2 linked regions of the Homo sapiens genome follow. The protein of the gene in region 2 purifies or fractionates together with the protein of the main gene of each other region. This does not show direct contact. Each region holds a gene or a part of one and is shown on either strand. Other genes may lie near its edges.

Evidence for each region.
Region 1: the proteins of GPR55 (region 2) and SPG7 purify together in Homo sapiens (affinity purification with mass spectrometry; 2 studies listed by BioGRID and IntAct, with this or other methods). This does not show direct contact.

What each region holds. Positions count from the first base shown.
Region 1 is NC_000016.10:89,545,281-89,553,456, reverse strand, and holds part of SPG7 (mitochondrial inner membrane m-AAA protease component paraplegin isoform 1 precursor), read right to left. Parts: intron 7,586-8,176; coding exon of another isoform or gene 7,499-7,585; exon of another isoform or gene 7,281-7,498; intron 6,800-7,280; coding exon 6,697-6,799; intron 5,455-6,696; coding exon 5,344-5,454; intron 4,763-5,343; coding exon of another isoform or gene 4,740-4,762; exon of another isoform or gene 4,675-4,739; intron 2,964-4,674; coding exon 2,848-2,963; intron 479-2,847; coding exon 322-478; intron 1-321. UniProt on the Homo sapiens protein: Catalytic component of the m-AAA protease, a protease that plays a key role in proteostasis of inner mitochondrial membrane proteins, and which is essential for axonal and neuron development.
Region 2 is NC_000002.12:230,917,964-230,933,968, forward strand, and holds the start of GPR55 (G-protein coupled receptor 55), read right to left. Parts: upstream 7,280-16,005; 5' UTR 7,205-7,279; exon of another isoform or gene 7,131-7,204; intron 1-7,130. UniProt on the Homo sapiens protein: G-protein coupled receptor that binds to several ligands including 2-arachidonoyl lysophosphatidylinositol or lysophosphatidylglucoside with high affinity, leading to rapid and transient activation of numerous intracellular signaling pathways.

The sequences.
Region 1 (8,176 bases), on a different chromosome or scaffold from region 2:
CTGGATATCCCAGTGCAGTAATGGCTTCAGAACAATGAAGCCGCTTCAATTTTATTCCGTTTCCTGTAGCCATTACCAACAATTAACCAATTAAATGTGTCTAGAGTTGGCATATAGGTTAAGTTTTTGTCCAATTAAATTATCTAAGAAGTCTTGCTTAGCTCCAACTCTCTTATGACCACAACTTATCTTTTACAAAATACTTAATAAATTCAAAGCTACGTCTACACCAGATTCACCCCATGGCATGCACTGGAACAGAAGGAGTCATGCAGGGAAAAGCGCTCTGAAACCTCCAGGGCCCGCGCCGCTGCTCCTCACCAGAAGTGACCTCGTTGAAGGACAGTGCTTCCGAGGCCCGTCCTCCCAGGGCCATGCACATCCGCTCAAACAGCTGCTCCTTGGTGAAGAGGTGCTGGTCTCTGGGGAGCATCTGAGCAAAGCCCAGGGCGGCGTTTGTCCGAGGGGTTATGGAGACCTGGCACAAGGTCAAGATGACCCAGGTCAGTAGGCAGGATGCGTGGGCTTTGAGGAGGAAGGTGTGGGACTAAGAGGTCTCCGTCATTAAAGCGTCTCAAAGCAGGAAGGCAAATGTGCAGCATCCTCTACAACAACAGGGGATCCTAACACTCTAGATGGCCAGCCCAGAGACAGCAGCGTTCCCACCACAGGTGCCTGTTCACACACTGCCGGGAAGTGTCTTCTCATACATGACTAGACAGGCAGGGAGTCAAGAAGACAAGGCCCGTAGAAGACAGCTGAGAGGCGAAGGACAAGTTTCACCCCCGATGGCCGCTGCGCTGACCCCTCACACCAGCGACAGCTACTGAGGGTTCAGAGCAATGAGAACCCCACGATGCTGAGGCAGCAGAGGCTGTCCTCACCTCTGCTGCTCCCCCACAGCCCCACATCAGGTGTGCAAGGAGGTGGCGCGGGGCAACGAGCTAACTCGACAACACGGAACCGCTGAGTGGGAGACGGACGGAGACGGGGCAGGGGCTGGCCCAGCTGCTGCTTCTGAGAATTGTGGCGGCGAGATGGCCACATCCAAGTGCTCTGAGAATCCCGAGGACGCTTAATTTAAAATCTAAAACTAGGCTGGGCGGGGTCGCTCACATCTGTGATCTCGGTACTTTGGGAGTTAGAGGTGGGCAGATTGCATGAGCCCAGGAGTTCGAGACTAGCCTGGGCAACATAACGAGACCCCTTCGCTACAAAAAATATAAAAATCACTCGAGCCACCAGTGGGGCATGCCTGTAGTCCCAGCTATGCAGGAGGCTGAGGTAGGAGGATCGTGTGAGCCCGGAAGGTCGAGGCTGCAGTGAGCTGTGATCGCACCACTGGACTCCGGTCTGGGCAACAGAGAGAGAGACCCTGTCTCAAAACAAAAAGAAGCTCTAAATAACGGCTGCAGTGATGATTGCATTAATGACCAAAACCATAACAGCCAATTCACAACCTTTTCCTGGCAGGACACTGAGCCTTGGGAAAGAGACTCACTTTTTCATTGTGACTATCTGACTTTTGCCCATCAAATACAGTAAAAATTCTTTTTTTTTCCCTTTGAGAGACAGTCTTGCTCTGTCACCCAGGCTGGAGTACAGTGGCACAGTCTTGGCTCACTGCAGACTCTGCCTCCCGGGTTTAAGCGATTCTTGTGCCTCTACCTCTCAAGTGGCTAGGGTTACAGGTACGCACCACCACGCCCAGCTAATTCTTTTGTATTTTTGGTAGAGATGGGGTTTCACCAGGTTGGCCAGGCTGGTCTCGAACTCCTGACCTCAAGTGATCTGCCCGCCTTGGCCTCCCAAAGTCCCTGCATTAATTTTGATTTCTTGACATACCGTGTTAAAACGTCGTGTTCACTGCTGAGTTTTTTAGTGTCCCATAAATGGGACCCCCAGCTGAGTGTCCACTCGCCCCACAGTGGGCCTAGCTCTGGTCCCATGACTGTGGTGCACATCGCCAAGGAGCAGCACGGATCTGGTCCCCAAACGCTGCCTCAGCCCTGCTGAGACCCTGGGATGGGCAGGACGCTCTCTGATTAACACGCAACTTTGCTACAACTCACACCTGAGAACCAATCACGGAGACCAGCACTGACAAACCAAGCTGGCAACTGCTACAGCGTATGCATTGTTTGCAGTGAACCCTGAGGTAGGAACACAGCACTGCCGCCTTCTCAGGTGAGCCTCAAACCTGCACGGCTTCCTGGGGCTCCACTGTAAAGACGGCACCTGCGTTCCGAGTAGAGACCTCCTCTTGGCAGCACTCGGACTCCCGGTGGTGGAGCCACGTCTTAGAGAAGCTGTAACATCACCATTTGGTAAGAATAAATGTCCATCGAGTTCACAGCTGCCTACAAGAGTAGTTTTTTGTTTGTTTGTTTGAAGTAGAGACAGTTTTGCCCTGTTGGCCAGGCTGGTCTTGAACTCCTGACCTCAGGTGATCCACCATGCCCAGCCTAGAATAGTATTTTTTAAATGTACACTCAACTCACTTCTTTCCAATGTTAGGAGTCATTTGGGGTGGACAGGCAAAGGCAGCGAAACCCCATTGCATGGTGTAACCTTCCACGAGTCACCCCAGTAGCAGCACCATGCTCCGATGTGACACAGCCCACTCCTGCCTCCCACGTCCGAGTTCCCGCCCATCAGTCGCCACCCACCCTGCTCCATGGATCATGACAGTGGCAGGCTTTCCTCTCACATGACCTACAGACACAGGCGGGACTCCCCAGTCAGCTACAGACACAGGCGGGACTCCCCAGTCAGCTACAGACACAGGCGGGACTCCCCACCCACCTTTGGCCAAGGCCCGTGGAGCCGGCACCTGCCAAGACCCACCTTCATCACGGCCTCCGTGTGCTCCAGCATCCAGCCCACCAAGGCGTGGCCCGACTCATGAAACGCAACCACTTTCTGTTCTTCCTTGGACAGGATCTTGCTCTTTTTGGCAGTCCCTGAAAGAATGCCGGGGTATGAGTTGGGCGCGGTGGCTCACGCCTGTAATCCCAGCGCTGTGGGAGGCCAAGGCGGGCGGATGACCTGAGGACAGGAGTTCGAGACCAGCCCGACCAATATGGTGAAACCCCGTCCCTACTAAAAATAGAAAAATTAGCTAGGTGTGATGGCGGGCGCCTGCAGTCCCAGCTACTTGGGAGGCTGAGGCAAGAGAATCACTTGAACCTGAGAGACGGAGGTTACAGTAGGGCAAGATCATGCCACTGCACTCCAGGCTGGGCGACAGAGCAAGACTCCGTCTCAAAAAACAAACAAAAAAGAATGACGGGGGGGTGAGCTGAGACCCCGGCCTCTCCCTGGCTGGGCCCTGCTCCTGCCCCGTGTGGTCAAAGCAAGCCTCTCTCTGCACATCTGCCTCTTGGAGCTGCAGCTGCGGCTCTGGACACCCCAACTCAAAACGACACTCTTCAGGTCAAAGGGCTGTTGAAGGAGGTCGTGATTTCTTCTTTTATAAATGTTGCAATCATCGAAATAGCTCCTGCTGCTTTTAGGAACAAGTGCAACCCTCTGAGGAGTGTCTCCTCCTGCCCCATGGTTGGGGGGGTGCCACAGGGTCGGGGCAAGGGTCACAGAACAGCAGCTTTTGACTTTCTCCCTGGCAGGATGGGCAGAGGCCTCCTCTGAGTTACGGGCCTCCTGCTTACTTTCCCTCTCCCCTCAGACCTGGAGGCGCAGCTCCCATCCCCATCACTTTCTGGATCCTTATGGCTTCTACTCACCCCTTCAGAAGCTTTTTGCCTCAGGGACAAGGCTTTTTTTCTGTCAGTGACAGGGTCTCACTCTGTTGCCCAGGCTGGAGGGCAGTGGTGCGATCACGGCTCACTGTTGCTTCAACCTCCCAGGTTCAAGCAATCCTCCTGCTGCAGCCTCCTGAGTAGCTGAGACCAGAGGTGTGCTCCACCACCATGCCTGGCTAATACTCTTTATTCTTTTCTTTTAAGAGATGGGGTCTTGCTGTATTGCCCAGGCTGGTCTCAAACTCCTGGCCTCAAGCAACCCTCCTGCCTCAGCCCCCAAAGTGCTGGGATTACAGGCATGAGCCACAGTGCCCAGCCAGGGACAAATGTTTGCATTAAATCTCCCCTGTTCAGCTTACTGGTGAGGCTTCATTTCCTGTCTCAGATTTTCCACACATCTGTAAGTGTCCATTCTGTACAACTTGAATCAGCTCGTGGTCCTGAGCACTCAAGTACGTCATGTATTTTCTTTCAACTGGCTTGTGGTTCCCACTCAGTCCTTCCTGCTTTGCTACTATTATCAAAAGCTTTTCGATTTCCACATAAAAGTAAATGGTTACACGAAAATAAATTTCAGTAAGACACAGGCAGCGCCAGTCCTCTCGACCCGCAGGGCTGTCGGAGAGAAGCCAGGTGTGTTTTGCAGTGTCTGGCACAGCAGCTGCCCCACTCCTCTGCAGGAACCCACTGCTTTCCCAAGCTGAAGCCCTGGGGACCTGCAAGAGGCGTGTTCGTGCTAGGAATTCACTCGAATTGAGGGTGAGGAACTCGGTTCTCGCAGGGATAGCTCGCAAAGGAGGCTCGTGCTCCTCAAACACCTGGGGCAAGAACCACTTCCCTTTTCAAACGTTCAACCTGTCTCACACTGACAGTGCGGGTCTGAACTCCATTCCATGAGATGACTGATCACGTCTGGGTGTTGCCATCATAGCTATGGAAACCTCCAGCAGCTCCGATTCCCAGTTTGGTCCTCTCTCCTCACAGACGTCGCAGACCCCACACTGAGCAGCCACGGAACGGCAGTCAGAGGCGGTCAGCCCACCGGTCACCCGTCACCAAAACTCATCTCCCGTTCCTACTGACGGTCGGGACCATGAGTTTCACCAGAGGTGGTGCTGCAGATCCACACCTCTCCGCAGAGCCCCTGCTGCGCTGAAAGCACGGCTGTCCCTCCACAGCCACGGGCGGCAGCAGCCCTCCGGCCCACAGTCAGCGGCTGGAGCTCAGCCCCCATGAGGCTGGGGCTAGGCTGAGCCCACCACACCCAGGCTGGCAAGACATTTTTAGTTTTTATTATTTTTATTTTTGGGGGGCATTTTTTATTTTTATTTTTTCACTTTCTTTGGCAAGGCATTTTTTATTTCTGTTGGACGAGCGTCTACTCTTAGGTAAATCTGTGATATTTTAAACTAAGGAAAAGTACAAGGTATCATAAAGACATGAGTTACGCAGAACTGAAACGCAACGTGTGTTCCTTCCTGTGTGATGGTTCCATCCACCTCACCTCTCAATACCTGCCTGGGTATTTCTGGGGTTCAAGCCCTGCTAAGGAGGGCCTTCACCCAGGGCGCGCCCCCTGTACCTGCGAGGACGCGCTCCACGGCGTACTCGAAGTTGAGAGTGTGCACGGAAGTGTGTCCCTCCCGCGCCGCGTGCAGCGCAGCCTCATTGCAGATGTTGGCGATGTCAGCCCCTGTCAACACAAACAGCCACGGTGTGGGTGGGTGGGTTTCTGCTATCAGGGCTTAAGAGGAGGAAGGGGCCCTCAAGGGAGAACAAAGATGGCCGGGCATGGTGGCTCACCCCTGTAATCCCAGCACTTTGGGAGGCTGAGGTGGGCAGATCACCTGAGGTCAGGAGTTTGAGACCAGCCTGGCCAACAGGGTGAAACCCTATTGCTACTAAAAATACAAAAATTAGCCGGGCGTGGTGGTGAGCGCCTGTAATCCCAGCTACTCAGGAGGCTGAGGCAGGAAAATCGGTTGAACCCAGGAGGCGGAGGCTGCGGGGAGCCAAGATCACGCCACTGCACTCCAGTCTGGGCGACAGAGTAGGACTCTGTCTCAAAATAAATAAGTAAATAAATAAAAGGAAGAACAAAGAGGGAAAAGAGACCAAGAACCAAGAGTGCTGGTGAGAGCGTCTGGGAGAGAGGCACGGGGAGCTGGCGCCAGGAGCAGAGCTGGGGAGAGCGGCAGGCGCCGGCGCCAGGAGCAGGGGTGGGGAGAGCGGCAGGCACTTGCACCGTGTTCCACTGAGGCCATTCCACAGACGAGACACAGAACCGCCAGGCTCCATCCGCCCTGACGCCCGTCTCTCCTCCCAAGGGCAGTTAGTTCCACACCCCATCTTGTGGCTGATTCCACCTAACAGCTCATGAGCATTGATGGCAAAGAAATTAAAGGCTCTCTAGTAACCACAAAATTCTAGTGAAAGACCCTAACGAATAATCAAAGGGCAAATTCATCTCATAATAAAAGGGAGGTTTGTTGACATTAACTTTTAAAATGTGAACCACACAGCAGGAAAAGCATCTTGAGGTATGATTTCTATTTCTACAACTTGACAGAGACCGTGAGGGTCAGAGGGAGGCGGCTTTGCCGGGACTGCGTGGTCTGACTCTGGGTCTGACGGGAAACGCCGGCATGACTGGTCACTGTGTGGAAGCAACATAACTCCACTATCTCTGGAAACAACACAGACCGGGAACCACCGTCTGCTTTTCCACCCCGGGGCGGAGGACGGAGTGCGGGTGCCGTCTGGACCTCCTGCTGCCCCACATACACATCAGCTCCCTCCCAGGCTTGTACTGAGCAGAGGCCCCCAGAGAAGGAGCAGCGCCCACCCCACAGAGGAGGCCTCGATGCTGTTTGCGCAGGTGACACCACCTGCCCTCAGGACGTGACGCTGCCCAGGCTGCGGGTTGAGAACGTACCACTGAATCCTGGTGTCAGCTCTGCCAGACGCTGGGAGTAAAAGGTGCTGGACTGGGTCAGCTTCAGGCTCTTCAGGTGCTGCTCAAAAATCTCCCGCCTCTCCTGCCAGAACCAGGGGAGGAAAGACAGTCGGGCTCAAGCCTAGTTACTGCCACAGGTGCGGCATGTTTGTCTGTGGGGGGGGGGGGTCCCCAAGTAGCTGGGATTACAAGTGTGTGCCATCATGCCTGAGTTTTGTATTTTTAGTAGAGACGGGGTTTCGCAAAGTTGGCTAGGCTGGTCTCGAACTCCTGGCTTCAAGTGATCCACCTGCCTCGGCCTCCCAAAGTGCTGGGGTTACAGGCGTGAGCCACCATGCCTGGCCACAAGCAGCATTTTAAACACGAACAGAACACTGTTGGATGGCCGGGCCCGGTGGCTCACACCTGTAATCCTAGCACTTTGGGAGGCTGAAGTGGGCAGTCTGGCCAACACGGTGAAACCCCATCCCTACTAAAATACAAAAATTAGCCAGGCAAGACGGCGGGTGCCTGTAATCCCAGCTACTCGGGAGGCTGAGGCGGGACAATCACTTGAACCTGGGAGATGGTGGTTGCAGTGAGCCGAGATCGCGCCGCTGCACTCCAGCCTGGGGGATAGAGTGAGACTGTCTCAAAAAAAAAAAAAAGAGAACGCTCTTGGAAGGAGAGGTGGGTGGGGATCACTTGAGGCCAGGGGTTTGACACCAGCCTTGGCAACACAGCGAGACTCTGTTAAAAATTAACCAGCACGGCGGCGCACGCCCATAGTAGTCCTAGCTCCTCAGCTTGAGCCCTGAAGGTTGAGGCCGCAGTGAGTGGTGATCGCAGCACTGCACTCCAGCCTGGGTGACAGCGCAACACCCTTTCTCTAAAAATTGAAAGAAAAATTAAAAAGAAAAAAGAAAAAATTATAGCAGAATAGCTAATGAAGCACGTCACACACAGCAAATGCTTATTCTGCAAAACTTCCAATTCCCACACATGTTCCATGCGTCTAAATCCTGATGTAAAATGTTTCTTACACAGTCAAAAAGCCAGGAGCCGCCCTCCCCTGGAGAAGCTGCCCTCCCCTGGAGAAGCCGTGTCCCCTGGAGAAGCTGCCATCCCCTGGAGAAACAGTGTCCCCTGGAGAAACAGTGTCCCCTGGAGAAGCCATGTCCCCTGGAGAAGCCGTGTCCCCTGGAGAAGCCATGTCCCCTGGAGAAGCAGTGTCCCCTGGAGAAGCCGTGTCCCAGCGGGAAGGGCTTCTGCTCCGCCCTTCACTCTCCATCCCAACAGAGACTGAGCACCGGCTGAGAGCCGCTGAGCCCAGCCCTGCTCCCCAGGCTGCACTGATGGAACATTAACCCACCAGCAGACCCGGAGGCCCTCTCTCCAAACCCTCCGCTCCATGAGCTGAACTCCTGCTCCCTCAGGGCAGCAACAAAGGCCCTTTGGCCAGGAAGTGTAACGTCCAACC
Region 2 (16,005 bases):
ACTATTCTCAGAGATAAACACATTGCCCTAACTGCTTTAATTTTCTTTAAGGACATTAAATAAATGAATTAAGCACTTAACTTGAGCATTTAGGGAAAAAATGTCTTAGGGAAATCAGGAAAAAAGTATAAAGATAAAAGTGGAAATAAAGGAATTAGAAAAGAGAAAATATCAGAATCAACACATTTAATAGGTGGTTCCTTCAGAACAGAAGCAATAAACGAAGCAATACCTATATCTCTAACAACTATGATCAAGAAGAAAGGGCTCAAATGGTCATAACTAGAAATAAGAAAGAAGACATTAAGCTGAGTTAGAGAGGAGAGCAAAAATAGCAAGAAACTGCATTGTTACGTGTGTGTTGATCTGTTGAAAAACCTTGATGTAGTTGTTGATTTGGGGGCAAAAAATAATTTACCACAATCTATACAAGGTTTGACACAAGAAGAAATAGAATTATTGACTAGACCAATAACCATAAAAGAAACAGAATATTATCAAAGAATTACTCTTAAAATAGGCTCTAGCTTATTTCAAATTTTCAAGCAACAGATAATCCCCGTGCCCTATAAAGTATTTCAGAACATAGTATTAATGAATTTCTATTAAACTAACTTATCCAAATAGCGAAACTCAGCACAAAAGAGACAGACTTGCTCAAATACAATTATGAATATATATGCAAACATCCTAATTAAAATATTACCAGGTGGAATTCAGTACATTAACATTATAAATCATCATGATGAATCAGATTCACTATAGAAATGTAAGATAGTTTCAGTGTTAGGAAATCAATTAATGTTTTGTATCACATCATTAGAGCAAAAATAAAAAGTCATCCAATTGTATAAATAGTTTTTTGAGTTATTTAACTAATGGAACAGGAAAGTACTTCTTACAAAGAGTAAATTGCTCACACCAATGACAACTTTGTATTTAATGGTAAAATAGTAGGGACATTCTTGTTGAAATCAGACATTTACTAACCCAAAAATCTCAGACTATGCACTAACACATTTAACAGAAGCAAGAATAAATGAGGCATTCCACAAAAATCAATAATACAAAGGGAAGGCTTAGTTAAGAAATTATGTTAAGAATTATGTTAAGACTGTCAGTTAACAATTTGGGAGTAAAAACCAACTTAGAGTCTCATCTTACACGGTATCTCAAAAGAAATTCCAAATTCATCAAGGAATTACATTTCAAAACAATCAAATCATAGAAAAACTAGATGAAAATTTAATAAACAACTTATAAAATCACTAAAGGGAAAAGCTCTTTGTCAACTTAGCATAACTGAAAATCAAAGAAACAGAAAATAAACAGGACAGGTTTGACTGCACAAAAAAAATTCTTTTTGCTAAAAAGTCTTAACATCAAATAATGTACTCGAAGAAACAAAACACAATCAATGTTAGACAAATGACGTTCTTTCTCTGAGAAGAGAATATTAAAATGAATAACATCAAGAACAACAATAGAAGAACAAGCCAATGACATAGGCAGTTCCCAGAAGAGGATTTACAAAGAGATAACATTTTTGCTTATCAAATTTAACAAAGAATTTGGCAAGGGTTCTGTGAAACCAGTCACCAATATGCTAGTAAGTGTACAAATTAGCACACCACTTTTGGGATTTGATAATTTCTATTACAAGCCATGAAAATTGTATGTCTTTAATCCAGTGATTCTGAGAATTCACCTTAAGTAAATTATATGAAAGAAGAAAAATTGTGTACAAAAATATGTCCACCTTGGCATTTTTTCTTCTTATTCTTCTTTGCCTCACTGTATTACCACATTACTTTTTTTCTAATAGTAAAAAATACATACACACATGTAAATGCCAACAAGAGGTTAAGTTCACTACGGTAAATTTACTCAATGGAAAATTTTTCTGTCTGACTGTTATGTTTATGCTGACTATGTTGAGTAAAAACCCCACAAACTATAGAATTAGACATTCAGAATGATTTCAACTGTGATTAAAATTACAAAAACCCACGCATAGAGGGGAAAAAAAAAAAACCTAAAAAAAGATTTCTACATCCCAACCAGTGGTTGCATTCTAGCAGTTGGAAGGTGGGTGATTTTTAAAATCTTTTATCTTTATCTCTGTCTTTTGTGTGTGTGTGTGTGTGTGTGCTTTTCTAATTAGTTAATGATAATATGAAAACCTGAGATTAAAAAAATATATATATATAATGCTTGGTGGGGAAAAAGGAGACCAGTAAGGATAGCTTTCAATTTTTTCCTTCTGTATCAGAGAAACAACTTGTGGTCTGGGTTTGTGTTTGAGGCATGGCAGGGCGCAAGGTTTACACAAAATTAAAAGTTATGCATTGAATTCACCAAAGCTCAGCTGATGAGGCATGACCTTTCAGGGTCAGAGATGAGCATTTCAAGATGGGGCTGGGAACGAAGCATGAAGTGAGAGAGAGATGTGGGAGTGTCAAGTGAGACAGCAATCCCACCCAAATGATGGGAGAACAGCAACAAGAACCTGATTCATGATTTTTTTAAAAAAAAATTGAAAAATAAACAAGTTTCCTCTGTTCACAGGTCAGCCATCACATTATAAAAATGTGTATTACATAAGCAGTAAAAGACGACATAAAAGAGACAAAATGCCAGCTTCATAGTGAAGAGTAGGTGAAGGTAAGAAAAGAGATTTAAAATATAATTCCCCCAAAGCTTGGCAAGCTATCAATAGCATCAAGAAGTTAAGAACTTAAATATTTTCCAAATTGAATATTTAGGTTAAATCACCTTGTCTATCTTAACGGGACAAAAGGAAGAGAAGATTCACAGTAGAAACTGAAAATGAAAAAACTATAATATCACAATATAGAAAACAGAGGGGCAACCTCACAGAGGTTTATGCAAATTTATAAACAATTGTTAATACTCCCTATATTAATCTATTAAAACCAACCATCAATTTAAAAAAAACAAAATTCAATCATCTTTTGTCAAGGAAAAACACTAAGAAAATGAAAAGACACAGAGTAAAATGATAGCATAATCTTTGGTTTATCAGGCACATTTTGTGCTAGAAAGGAAGGGAATAGGACAAAGTAATTTTTTTTTTAGTAAAAAGAATTGAGAAAGTAACATGGAGACTCCACAAGAGTGAAAGTTACAATAAATAATGAAAACTTAAAACACTCAATTTCTGTTCCAATTAGCACAGCAAACAAGTACATAATGGGACCATGCAGGAAATGCAAAAGAAATTTTAAAAAATGGAAATATAATGTAGCTGGAGCCCTTAGTGCCCCTCCTGTGGAATACCCATGATCAAAATAGACAGAAATTAGAGCTCTGAACAACCCAACTAATAAGGTAGACTAGCAGATCAGGGAGAAGTACATCATAAATCAAGGGTCTATGCTCTCTTTAGAAGAATAGAAGTGTCTTTCACAAAATTTACCCCATTCCCGAGCACAGGCAATGGCAATTTTACACTCCTCATTCTCGGACCACAAAGAAAATAGCTGTTTGTTGGTCCTGACCACTTAGCTGCAGTGCCATATTAAAAATACAGGCATTTCTATGCATTCTTTTACACAGGCTCTTCACGTGTGAGTCAGAGACAAAATCAGACGTACATTGCTGAAATATTGTAAAGAAACAATATTTATACACAAAACACAAACGCAGTCACCACTTTAAGGAAAGTGGGAATTCCTAAGTGTTCTTTTAAACATGAAAGGGAGAAACGAGGTGAGCCAAGGCTACACTCAAAGATCCTGGAAGTGGAATGGGAGTGACCATGGCCAATGCACAGCTCTGATCACCCTAGGACCCGAGGCTGTCTGTCTGCAGGGGCTGAACTCGGAGGGGCTAGGGAACCACAGCATGGGAGAAGATGCAGAAAGGCCTAGAGATGCTCCTAATCCCTAGAGGGAAAGGCACAAGGTCATCCATCCTCCAGTGATCGTGACGTGTTCCACCATAAGACTTCACAGGGTCAGAAAAGGAATGGGTTCCAGGTGCTGCAGAAAGCAAACCTATCTCGCAGCCAGAGTGTCTGAGAGTAGACAAAGCAAAGCAGCCTCGTCATGTGGAGGGCTCTCTGTCACCAGAGGTATGCAAGCAAAGGCAGGGCTATGTGCTTATCCAGGGTGCTGTAGAGGGAATTCATGCACACAGCCGTGTCTTACTGAAGGGTGTTTTTGTTTGTTGATTTTTAACCCTGAAGTAGAATCTCCTTTCAATATAAGGCTGTTTTCCAATGTTTGGTGAAAAGGAGAGAAAGTATGTGACGTGTGGAAAGGGACTGGGGTGGAGCACAGAGGCCTTGCTTCTCCTCCTGGCTCCCTCTGCTTGGGGGTTTCCGTCTCATTTCTTCCATCCTCAAGGCCCTGCTCAGCCCCGAGCCCGGAGCCCTGGCCTCAATGTGCTGATTTGTTTGTTTGTTTAAGTTAGCATCTTGCTTTGTCACCCAGGCTGGAGTGCAGTGGCACAATTGAGGTTCACTGCAACCTCAACTTCCCAGGCTCAAGCAATCCTCCCACCTCAGCCCTCCGAGTAGCTGGGACTACAGGCATGCATCACCATACCCAATTAATTTTTTATTTTTTGATTTTAAAATTTATTTTTATTTATTTATTTATTTTTGAGATGGAGTTTCACTCTTGTTGCCCAGGCTGGGGTGCAATGGTGTGATCTCGGCTCACTGCAACCTCTGCCTCCCAGGTTCAAGCAATTCTCCTGCCTCAGGCTCCTGAGTAGATGGGATTACAGGCATGTGCCACCACGCCCGGCTAATTTTGTATTTTTCGTAGATACAGCGTTTCTCTATGTTGGTCAGGCTGGTCTCGAACTCCCGACCTCAGGTGATCCACCTGCCTCCCAAAGTGCTGGGATTACGGGTGTGAGCCATCGCTCCTGGCCTAATTTTTTATTTTTTGTAGAGACAAGGTCTTACTGTGTTGCCCAGGCTGGCCTCAAATTTCTGGGATCGAGCAATCCTCTTGCCTCTGCCTCCCAAACTGCTGGGATTACAGGCGTGAGCCCGAGCACCCGGCCTGTGCTGGTTCTTAATTGCTGACTCTACACATTCTGCAGCTGGGATTCCCGCAACTGCCAGTGGTCCATGGTACCCTCATCCGCCCACACCCTCAAGGATCCAGTGTCCCACTTGCGGCAGCCCTGTGGCTTTGCCTGCACAGCTGAGACCTCGAAACCCAGCTATGTGGCTCCACACCAGACCTACCTTTCTTCCCTCTGTGGCCTGGACTTTCCAGAGAACACAAGCAACAAGAAGATCACAACCCTAAGGAGGGTTGCAACTGAGAAGGTGGCCCTTCCTGCAGCTGCCAGGCTGTTATCTGCACAGAGCATTGCAGCGTGAGCCACCTCAGAGATGGCAGGGCCAGAGCCTAAAAAAGCAGCATTGGCACAGCCGCAGGGATGGATTTGAGGAGCCCTGGAATACTCCCCCAAAAATGCCGCAGTTAGAATACACAGCGTATCCACCAGTAACACCATAGTGTGAATAAAGTCATCCGCCTGTGCCTGAGCTGGGCTTCTGGGGGCCACGATAGAAGAAGGAACAGGACACAGAGGGGACAGAGCACATGACCACAATCTCCCCAATGCCTGAATGTTGCTGGAGCTTGGGCTGGGGGGTTGGAGTGGGGCTGGGAGAGGGGAGGGGCCGGCTTGGGGACGTGAAAGGTGGCCAGCAGTGTGCTCAGTGATCTACGATGGGAACTCAGGACACTCCTAGGAGATTGCCCTAATTATGCCCATTTTACAGATAAGGACAGTAAGGCTTAGAGATGTTAAAGATTCTACCCAAGGTCAAAAAGGCCGTGAGGGACCAGCTGGAACTCATGTTCTGAGTCTCTCCTCCTCGCTCACCCTGGCCCCCATCAGCATCACAAGCAAGAGCATCTGGGATCCAGGAGTTGCCAAGCCCCCTCCTCACTTCTTTGCATGCTCATGCTCCTCTTTCTCCTTGGACTCTCTCCTCCACTGCTAAAAATCCCACCTCTTCCTTGAAATGCCCACTTCCCAGGTTCACCCACATCATCTGATGTGGTTTTCCCAGTGCAGTCCTGAGTGGGTGCCTTGAAAAGTCCTCTGTGTATCCCAGGGGGAGCGTGTCCCTGCTGTCCTCCAGCAACCCCAGGACCAGGACCATGTCCCTTTCACCTTTATCACCGAGCCTCACATACAGTTTGTCGTTGGGAAGGTCTTATTGCATGAAAGAGGGGGTGAAGAAATGACGGAACAAATGGCCAGGTCTGCTGCAGCTCCACAGTGACTGGTGCTCCCTTTACAGCTGGGACAGCCGCTCAGAACCAAAGGCAAACCTTGCCTTCCACAGAGCTGTGGGCGGCACTTTGCCCTGCCCTGTCCTCTCATCCCCACTGCCTCGGGCAGCACAAAGCCCAGGTGAAGCCAGGCCAGCCAGACATGTCCTGACTTTGTGTTCTCACTCTCAGGGAAGAATCTAGAATGTTCAGGGTTCTAAGTGCTGCTGTGTCTTCCCGCCCAGCCTCTCCAAGAGACACTTGGCTAGGGTTAGAGAACAATGCAGCTATAATGTAGGATAGCAACCAGGGCTTTCCTCTCCATCATTTACTGCCCTTGAGCGCCCCGTGAGGAAGAAACCGTGTATTGCCTCATGCCCCAGAGAGGTAAACGGAGGCTAGAGAAATTACGCAGCTGGTGAGTGGGTGAGCCTGGGCTCCCAGGCTCCTTCTGGTCCCCAGTAAGCACTTGCTCAGGGCTGCAGGATGATCCCTGAGAGTGTGTCATCTCGGGCGCTTGGTGGTTTCCCAACAAGATTCTGGGGAATGGGCGGCGGGCTTGGTGGAGGGCGGTGGCACGTGAGCTACATGCCCCGGGAAGGCTCCCAGGCTGCCTATGGGGAGGTTTCCCGACCCGACATGATGCTGCAACCCTGAGTCAGATCAGGAGGAAGTTGAGGGTTCGTAGAAAAATGTCACTCGTAATCGGGGACAAACCAGGTCTGCCTGCCGCTGCTGCTGTCACGGAGGCTGCCTGGAGGCTGCCGCTGCCCTGACACCTGGGACTGCTCGCTGAGTTGGGACAGGTGTGCACAAAGCCCAGGCCCACACAAGCCCCACTGATCTTAGGAGAGTTACCTGCAGTCCACAAGAGCAAGGTCAGGTTGGAGGCTCCGTGCCTTAGTTTCTCTAAATGGCCCAGAGGCTGTTACCTGTTGGTGGTCCGGTGCAGCTGAGAGGGCTGAGAGATGTCATTTCTCCTCCAGGCCTGGCTGTCAGCCTGTTCTGGGGAGAGTCACTTCCCCTCTCTGGGTCTCGACTTCCTTGTGAGTGAAATAAAGGGGTGGGACCAGATGCTCTTTGAGCCGCTCCAGTGTCACCCTGTCTGGCTTAGGGGCTCTTGCTCTGGGGTCTACAGAGAGGCTGTGTGGAACTAGAGTGTGGACATGGGGAGCAGTTTCCAGGAGGAGGGTCTACACTCTCCCGCCCTCTTGGAAGATCTGCACGCCCCCCTCCCGCAGCTCCAAAAAACAAAACAAAAAACCAAAAAGCCAAAAATCACACTGCATGTGTCAAGCCCTGGGAAGCCTCTGGAGGAGGAAGCCTCCTACGCACCCCAGACACCCTAACAGGGGCACCACACAGGGGCAGCCATTCTCAGCACCTGCCAAGGGCCGTCGTGGCTTCCAGCACTTTGGGGGTTTAGGATTTGAAACTGCTGCCCACAGAAAGGAAAGGAAGGTGGTGCTATTTAGTACTTGCAGGTTAGGACTTGCGTGCCTAGCGTCGGAGGAGACCTCAGCCACTGCATGTGTGTCTGCAAGAATGGTCAGTGGGGCCCCACAGGTTCCCCAGCCTCGGCTTCTCTGTCCCAGGCCTGCACAGAGATTTGGGGCAGCCTTGGGCCTGTGGCTTCCTAGGGCCCTGCAAGCAGAGATTTCCCTGGCATCTCCCACCTTCAGGGCTGGGAGGGCTGAGACTCACCCGTGGGCCTGGGTGGCTCTTAGCTGGGAGCCCTCATAGATTCCAGCCCATCAGGAAAGTCTGGGCTGAAACTACCCCGGCAGATGCAGCTCTCATGCCCTGGAGGTGCTGGGAGGCCCTGTCGGAGGACCAAACACAAGCAATTTTTAAAAGCTATGCGTGCTGGGACTTTCAGGTGTCTACAGGAATAGAAACTACTCCTGGGTTTTTTGGATGATTCATCCAACACATGGGTCCCCTCTGTAAATAACACCTTGCAAGTCACTGCAGGGGAACCACCTGGCCCTCTGGAGCTGGGTCTTCCCACTGTCTGGTGAAGAGGTTGATGGAACCATGACAACTTTTAAGCTCTCACCTGGGCTTGTGCGATGGGCAGTGCCAAGTCCACTGCCTGCTCCAGGCCGTGGAGCCCCAAGCTGGCCTGGGTGCCAAGACAGGGCACAGGGCAGTCCTGCCCCCAGCGAGGCCCCCCTACTGGGCCACCAGCCCAATCTAAGCCAAAGGCTGGCTACTGGGCAAGGGGGGGCAGCCAGGCCCGCACCCTGGGTGCGGGAGGAGGCCAGGAGCCTGCTGGGACAGTAGCAGGGAGGAAACACACCGGTGTCTGGCACCCACCTCCATACCCAGAGCCTGCAATGTGAGGCCCCAGGAAGGCATCCACACTGAGTGGCCTGCAGGGAGCAGTGTCTCTGCTCAGCCCCTTCTCAAAGGGAGCCTTGTCTACTCCCATTCTGGCTACCTTCTTTTTTTTTTTTTTTTTTTTTTTTTGATACAGAGTCTCGCTCTGTTGCCCAGGCTGCAGTGCAGTGGCACTATCTTGGCTCACTGCAACCTCCACTTCCCGGGTTCAAGTGATTCTCCTGCCTCAGCCTCCTGAGTAGCTGGGATTACAGGCTTGTGCCACCAGGCCCGACTAACTTTTTTCGTATTTTTAGTAGAGACAAGGTTTCACCATGTTGGTCAGGCTGGTCTTGAACTCCCGACCTCGTGATTCACCCACCTCGGCCTCCCAAAGTGTTAGGATTACAGATGTGAGCCACCGCTCCCGGCCCTGGCTACCTTCTTTTAAGAAATGAATATTTCTACTTTATTGCTGTTGCAATATTAAAATTTTTAAATTTTTAAATTTTTGAAAACATGCACATGATTCAAATACATATGTAAACACATATAGGAAAATATCTGTCCCACTCCTAAATCCAGCTCTCACCTACCCCCCAGGGCACCACTGTTAAGTTTCTTCCAGAGTTTCTGTGCCCGCCCGTGTACACCTGAGCTCTTATTTTCTCCCTCTTTTGACACAGAAGCTAGAGACCACACGAGCTGCTCTGCAGTAGAAGGCATTGTCCACCTCCCTCTCCTGTGGGTATCCCTTGGATACCTTGGGGGATATCCAAGGTATATGGGGGATCCCTTGCCAAGATACGTCTCCAGAGAGACTCAAAGGTTTGAGCTCCTAAGAGCAAGGCTAGGCAGGGACTCGCCCAAGGCCCCGTCCTAAGGCTCAGGCCTGTCCCTCGAGCTTTTCGCCTCCCCTTGCCACAGGCCTGGGGAGTCATAAATAGGAAGACCTTTCTCAGAAAATTTCCCTTAAGCCTCCTGAAACTTCTCCCCCTAGTCCTGCCCACCCTCTCACCATCCAGAATCACTTGGAGGTTTTGGGAGCCTGGGCAGGTCCCTGCCTGTCTTCCAGGCTGGGAGCCCCGAGTTGGGGGGTTTGGGGGCACACACCTTCGACTTCACCAGTGGAGCAGCTTCGGAGCTTCAGGAACCAGCTTCTTCTAGGGCAAGGAACAAGTGAATCTGACTGTGTTTATCAAAGAGCGGGTCCAGGATAGCTGGGCGCTCACCACATCCTCCCCTGACGCTGGTGAAATTCGCTCCTTCAGCAGCCAGAGGCCTGGCCCTGCCCTCGTGGGGCATCCTTTCCCTCCAAGGGGGGAAACCTGCCCACCAGGGGGTTTGCAGGGTGACCACTTGGCCCAGAGCTGTGCAAGAAGTGCTCCCAAGCCTGCCCCAGAGAGCTGGTCAGGGAACAGGGGCAGGGGCAAGAGCTGAACCCTAAGAGACACGGGGAGGGAGGAGGATGCTGGAGGAGGGCAGCCCAGGTGCAGGCACAGGCAGGAGGGGCACGGGGTTGGTGAGGGCCCGGGCACCCTCTGCACCAGGGTAAGGGGGGAATGGCAGGAGCCGAGGCTGGAAGCTGGCCAGGCAGGAACCAGGGGCACGGGCCGCCCCGGGGTCCCAGGGAACACACGCTTGGCACAGGGGCAGCATGTGACAGACCCACTGGGGCAGCAGGGGTTGGGTTGGGATGAGGGCACCAGCAGCAACAAGAAGGAATGAGGGCAGGAGTGGGGGCGTCAGAGTGTCTGAAAGAAGGATCCAGGGCATCTGAGGCAGCCGGACTCTGAAGATAGCCTCAGCAGGTCTCTGGCCGCCACTCCCCACAAAGCAGCTCTGTCAGCTTGGGCTGGTTGCCTAACCTCTCTGAGCCCATTTCCCCAGCCGCAAATTGGAGTTACACATCCATTCAATCAAAAAATGTTTGTGGATCATCTCCTAGGGACCAGGCAGTGGTGGTGAAGACAGATGACAGTACCTGTCTCAGAAAACGTTGTTTTAGGAGTCGGCATGGTAACAGGGGTAAGTGTACCCAGGAAGTGCCTGGTACTCAAGCAGTGACTGAGGCCCCCATTCCTCGTTGATTTATGCCTGCCTTTGTCTCCCCTGCTGGGTCTATTTGAAGGAAAAGAAAAAAAAAGGAGGAACATTGATAATGAGACCCTCATGATCCAAGGAAAAGGGGTCCTAAAAATCAGAGGAAGCCCCAACAGAGAGAGGAAGGCAGGGGAACTCAGGAAGAAGAGGCAAAGAGAGGAAGATGAGCAGCACCTGCCCCCACCCTCTGCTCCAACCCTCCAGGTGCGGCCTGGAGACAGACTCAAAGGGTTGAGCTCCAAGAGCTGGGCTAGGCAGGGACTTGCCCCAGGCCCCATCCTATGGCTCCCCATCTGGCCTCTCCCCTCCCATTCTGCCGGGAACACTTCTGTTCCCAAGCCCCACTTCTTTATTTTATTTTATTTTTTGTAAAAATAGAGATGGGGTTTTGCCATGTTGCCCAGGCTGGTCTCGGACTCCTGGACTCAAGCGATCCCCCACCTCGGCCTCCCAAAGTGCTGGGATTACTGGTGTGAACCACTGCATCCGGCCACCAAGCCCCACTTAAACATTGAGCCCGGATGACTCCCCTGCACGGTCAGCTGGGTGCTATACCACACGAAGCCCGTTCCTGGAGCCTTTGCCAAGTCCCTGAGGACTGACACCCTGCCCCCTAGGTGCTCACAAAGACAGGAAGGTGCGTGCCCCCAAGCCCCCCAACTCGGGGCCCTGATAATCCCCCTTAGCAATTGAAGATGTCTCCTTGAAAGTGGGCCCATGGTGGCTGAGGTCAGTGATGCTTAATGTCAAGGCAGAAGGGAGTAAAACACGCAAGGGGGCAGCAACTGTCCAGAATGCAGCCTTCCCCTCCCATGTCACCCCACGTGCCCCTCTGTCACTCACTGGAAATGTAACATCAAGGTTACAGGAGAAGGTTGCAGATGCTCAGATATCTGTGCCTTCTGTTCTTGTCATGATCCAGCCAATTCTTTTAGAGCCACCAAGCTTCTCCCTGCAGTCATCCTGCCCATGGCTGTTGATGGCCCTGATGGGGCTTGGAGCCCCCAGAATGTGCAGAAGTTGGACAAAGGTGGTCTTCAAATGCAATGGTTGTCTTATCACCGAAAGCCCACGGCATCCAGAGGAGGCCCTTTACTACGAAGTTTACAGAGAGCACAGGTCTCTGTACGTCCCAAGTTTCCCCTGCTGCCAAATGCAGGGGAGGAGAGAATTCTGGAAGCCCACCCTGTCCCATGGCTCCCCTGGCACATGGAGCCACTGAATGTCTTGTGAACATTAAACAAATGCTTCCAAGTGAACACCTCTGGCTCTGTCTCATCCAGGTCCTCCTGAGGCCCTCCTGAGGTTTGGCGCTCAAGGGAGCAGAGTCCTGGGCTAAACCCTGGCAACAGCTTCCCAGCATTCCCTCCACTCCCGCCGGGCAGCCAGGACCCCCCCGCCTCCCACCTGGGCCTTGGGGCCAGGAGTCAAGGAATGAGGGGATTCTGCTCACCTCTGAGTACCCCCTCTGGCCTCCCAGCAGCTCCCTGTCCAGGCCACCAGGTCACAGCTACTGAGCTACACTTGTTTATTTCTCAGGGACACGGGGATAGGAGTGTGAGCAGATGGTGGACCCTTTTGAAATACTTATTTTCTTTTATGTTTCCTGTTGCATAAAGTGTACTATTTCCTTTGCCCACATGCCCATCAGGAGCCTAATATTCTGTTTTCCACTTTAGCTATTGAATTCCTATTCTTCTTACGTGTTGAGTCTTTTCTCCCTACTTCACCCCTTCCCACCTCCCCTACACACAGACATTTTTATCTTTGGGTTTTTTGTTTTGTTTTTCTTTTCTTTCTTTCTTTTTTTTTTTTTTAGACAGAGTCTCACTTAGGCTGGGGTGCAGTGGCATGATCTCAGCTCACTGCAACCTTCGTTTCCTGGGCTAAAGCGATCCTCCCACCTCAGCCTCTCAACTTCCCAGGACTGCAGACACGTGCCACCACGCCTGGCTAATTTTTGTACTTTTGGTACAAAATACAAAGGCATTGAGAGGTTTTGCCATGTTTCCCAGGCTGGTCTCCAAGTCCTGAGCTCAAGCAATCCACCCACCTCAGCCTCCCAAAATGTTGGAATTACAGGCTTAAGCCACTGCGCCTGGCTCAGTTTTATCTTTGTTTTGCGGCATGGAAATTGTTAATTGTGTCGTTCGTCTCCATGAATTATCCTGTAGCACTTTAATAATGAACCTATCTTCACCCTTCTGTAGTTTGAGTAACTAGGACATTCATTTCCTTCCTGAAAGTCTTTTATTTAATTCTGATTTTTAAAAAGTATATATTGGGGTGGAAGGTAAAAAAATCTTCTCCAATACTGAGGGGCTGACAGGTGAAGGCTATGGGGAGGTCCCCACCTGCCCTACCTACCCGCCACTCCCCCGGGAACTGTGCCAGCACTCACACCCTATTCTCCTGCAAAACGCTTTGTCCTGAGAGCCTTACCCCACATGCAGAGCTACCACCTCTGCTCTTTAATGCCATCAAATATCTTCCAGGGCACACCACACTCCAGTACCTGGCTCAGTCTTCATCTCCACCCCAAGTCCTCCCGACTCTTCAAGGAGACGTCATTGCCAATGGTGACAGCTCCCTCCAACACTGACCCTGCCTGTCCTGAGGACCACGCCGAGGGCAGTACACTTTACAAATTAAGTCTGTTCATTCTCCAAACACCCTGGGAGGTGCAAACGATCAACAGCCTTGTTGACAGAGGAAGAAATTGAAGCACAGAGGGCTGGAGCCCTGTGCCCAAATGTGCACCACGAGCTTGATGCAGAGCTGGGATTGGGCCTAGGAGATGGCACCTAGAGAGGCCGATTTCTACCTGTCCCACCTTGCTGAACCCTCACCAACCCCATGAGGCAGGACCCACAGGCACTCCCACTTTACAGGGTGGAAATGGAGGCATTGAGAGGTTTTGGCAACTCGCCTGATAAGCCCACTTGTTAAGACGCTGAGCAGGAACACAGTGCACCTGCTGCTGCCACAGGCCCCGACCGCTGCACCCACGAGGGCCCCACTTCACAGTCTGGCCTCACGGTGCGACCTCCTGCTGCTCTCACCCCTGCCCATTAGCCCCATCCCCATGAGAGCATGCGGGGCCCCTCTGCTCCCCTTCCTTCCACACCCTGAGTGGTGCCCCACTCCACTGCCCGGGCCACCCCTGGCCCAGTCCATTCGCCTGCTTGCCCACTCCACCCCAGCCCCTTTAGCCCATGGACAATGCTCCTGGAGCCAAAGGGAACCATCCAAATGGCAGTCTCAGGGCACCAGCACCCCTCACCCCTTCCCTGGTGGTAGGGCAGCCCCACCCCAGCCCGGTCCCGTCGAGGCCACTCCACACCTCAAGGCCTCACCTCCAGCTCCTCACCATCCCCAGACAGCCTGGCCTCCAACTTCACAGAAAAAAATCTCGGTTCTGAGGCGTGAAGCTCCAGCTCCTTGTCCTACAAACCAGCCGCGGTCTGCACCCAACCAAGTGACAAAGGTACTCTGCTGCTTAGAGAAACACCTCCACGCCACCAGCCCGCCGACCTTCTCTGGGCGCCTGCCCGTCAGGTGGTTGCAGCTGTTTGTGGGAGGCATCCAGAGGGCAGGAAACATGTTAGAGGAATTCACAAGATTAAAAACTCATTCCCTACATAATTGGTGCTGAAGGCAGAAAATTACCACCGGCTGGATGGATATTGTTTCTATCATCTAAGGTGACTAGAAGTCTTAATTTGTGCATTATATCATTTTGAAATTACAGAGATTTCTGTAAAGGTACATTGCATTCTGTTACATAATGCACATAACGTTACATGAAGGGGAAGCTACTATGGAAGGAAAGTCTTCAGTGTTCATTAAAATAGTTGGATCTACACCTCTTCTAAATGAAGACAGCATGGCTGTGAATGTTTATATGATAAAGGTACATAAAGCTCCGAACAGAAGGACATGTTCATTACAAGGACAGTCTCCACGTGGGGCTCGAAACTGGCCAGGTCCTGCCTCTTCCAGCTGCCCAGCTGTGCCTGCATGAGCCCCAATCTCTTGCTTCGTGTCTGGCCGTCATCCTAAACCAGGCCTCTCTCCCACTCTTGCACCACCTCCTCGCTTCCTGTGACAAGGCACACCCTGTTCTAGCCCAGGCTCGGCCTGGGACTGCCTCCATCAGGGCCTCAGTCTGCACATCCCTGTAGCTGTGCTACAGGCAGGACTGCTGCTCTCTCTCTCTCTCTCTTGCATGCGCTCGCTCTCTCTAATTCTCTACATGTGAGGTCACAAGGACAAATCCTAAGGGAACAGAAGCCGGACTGAACTCTGACTTCAGAGCCCCAGGATCGTGCTCTCACGCTGATCTTTGGCAACGATGAAGGGAAAATGGGTCTGCTTTCACCCGGCTGCTTCCAGCCCACTCCTTTCCCTGCCCCTTCCTGCCTCTTCCCCCTTCCCTGCTACCCTCCATCACTGCCTTCTGGTCCTGTGCCCTGTCGCCTCCTGTGGGCCTAGCCAAGCCCCTGAAGTCCCCTGCCCCGCCCAGCTCCCCCCTTCCCTCCGCCCTCTCTGCCTGGCCTGCCTCTCTGCTCTTCACTCTTCCTGTGCTCTTGACTTCCCTTCTGGCCTTTCTCTGGCCTCCAGCCACCTGGGCAGACTGCTCCACTGCCCCATCTCCCTCCCATCCGTCCACCGCATCCTCCACCTGCCCTCCGTTGGCCCTTCCTGCAAACCGTCTCCTGGGACCCTGATGTCCCTGCTAGGGGAAGTCAGGAACCTACTGAACACACGGGGCAGCCCATGGTGTGCAGCTGCTGGGCAGCCTGGCAGGCCCTCCAGGAAGCCCCCATCTCCAAGGGAGCTCTCAGCCACCTGGGGACTGGCCTGTGGCAGTGGGTGGCTGTCCCTCCTCAGGTTGGTCCACAGGCCAAAGAAACTAGAGCAACCTCCTTTCATGTCCACCCTCAGTCCCCTTAGGCTTTCAGAGCGGCCATAGAGGTGGTGGCTGGACTCAGGGGACTCAGGGCCTCTCTCCTTACAGGGCTTGCCTCTTATCCAGGAGCAGCAGCCCCTGCGCCGGCAGCATTCCCCACTCCTGGAAGTCAGCGTCTCCAGGAGGCAGGGCGGGGGCTCCCTTGGCAGGGCAAAGGCTGCCTGGGTGGGGGCAGTGACAGCAGCGGGATGAAGCTCTGCTGTGGGGGTGGGAGATGCAGGATGCAGGGGATGTGTCCGCTAGGAGAGGCATTACCAGGTCTTCCCCAAGAGCTCAGCCTCTGAAGTTCTTGACTTCAGTTTCTGAGGCCACATCTGCAGTCACCCCAAAGCTTCC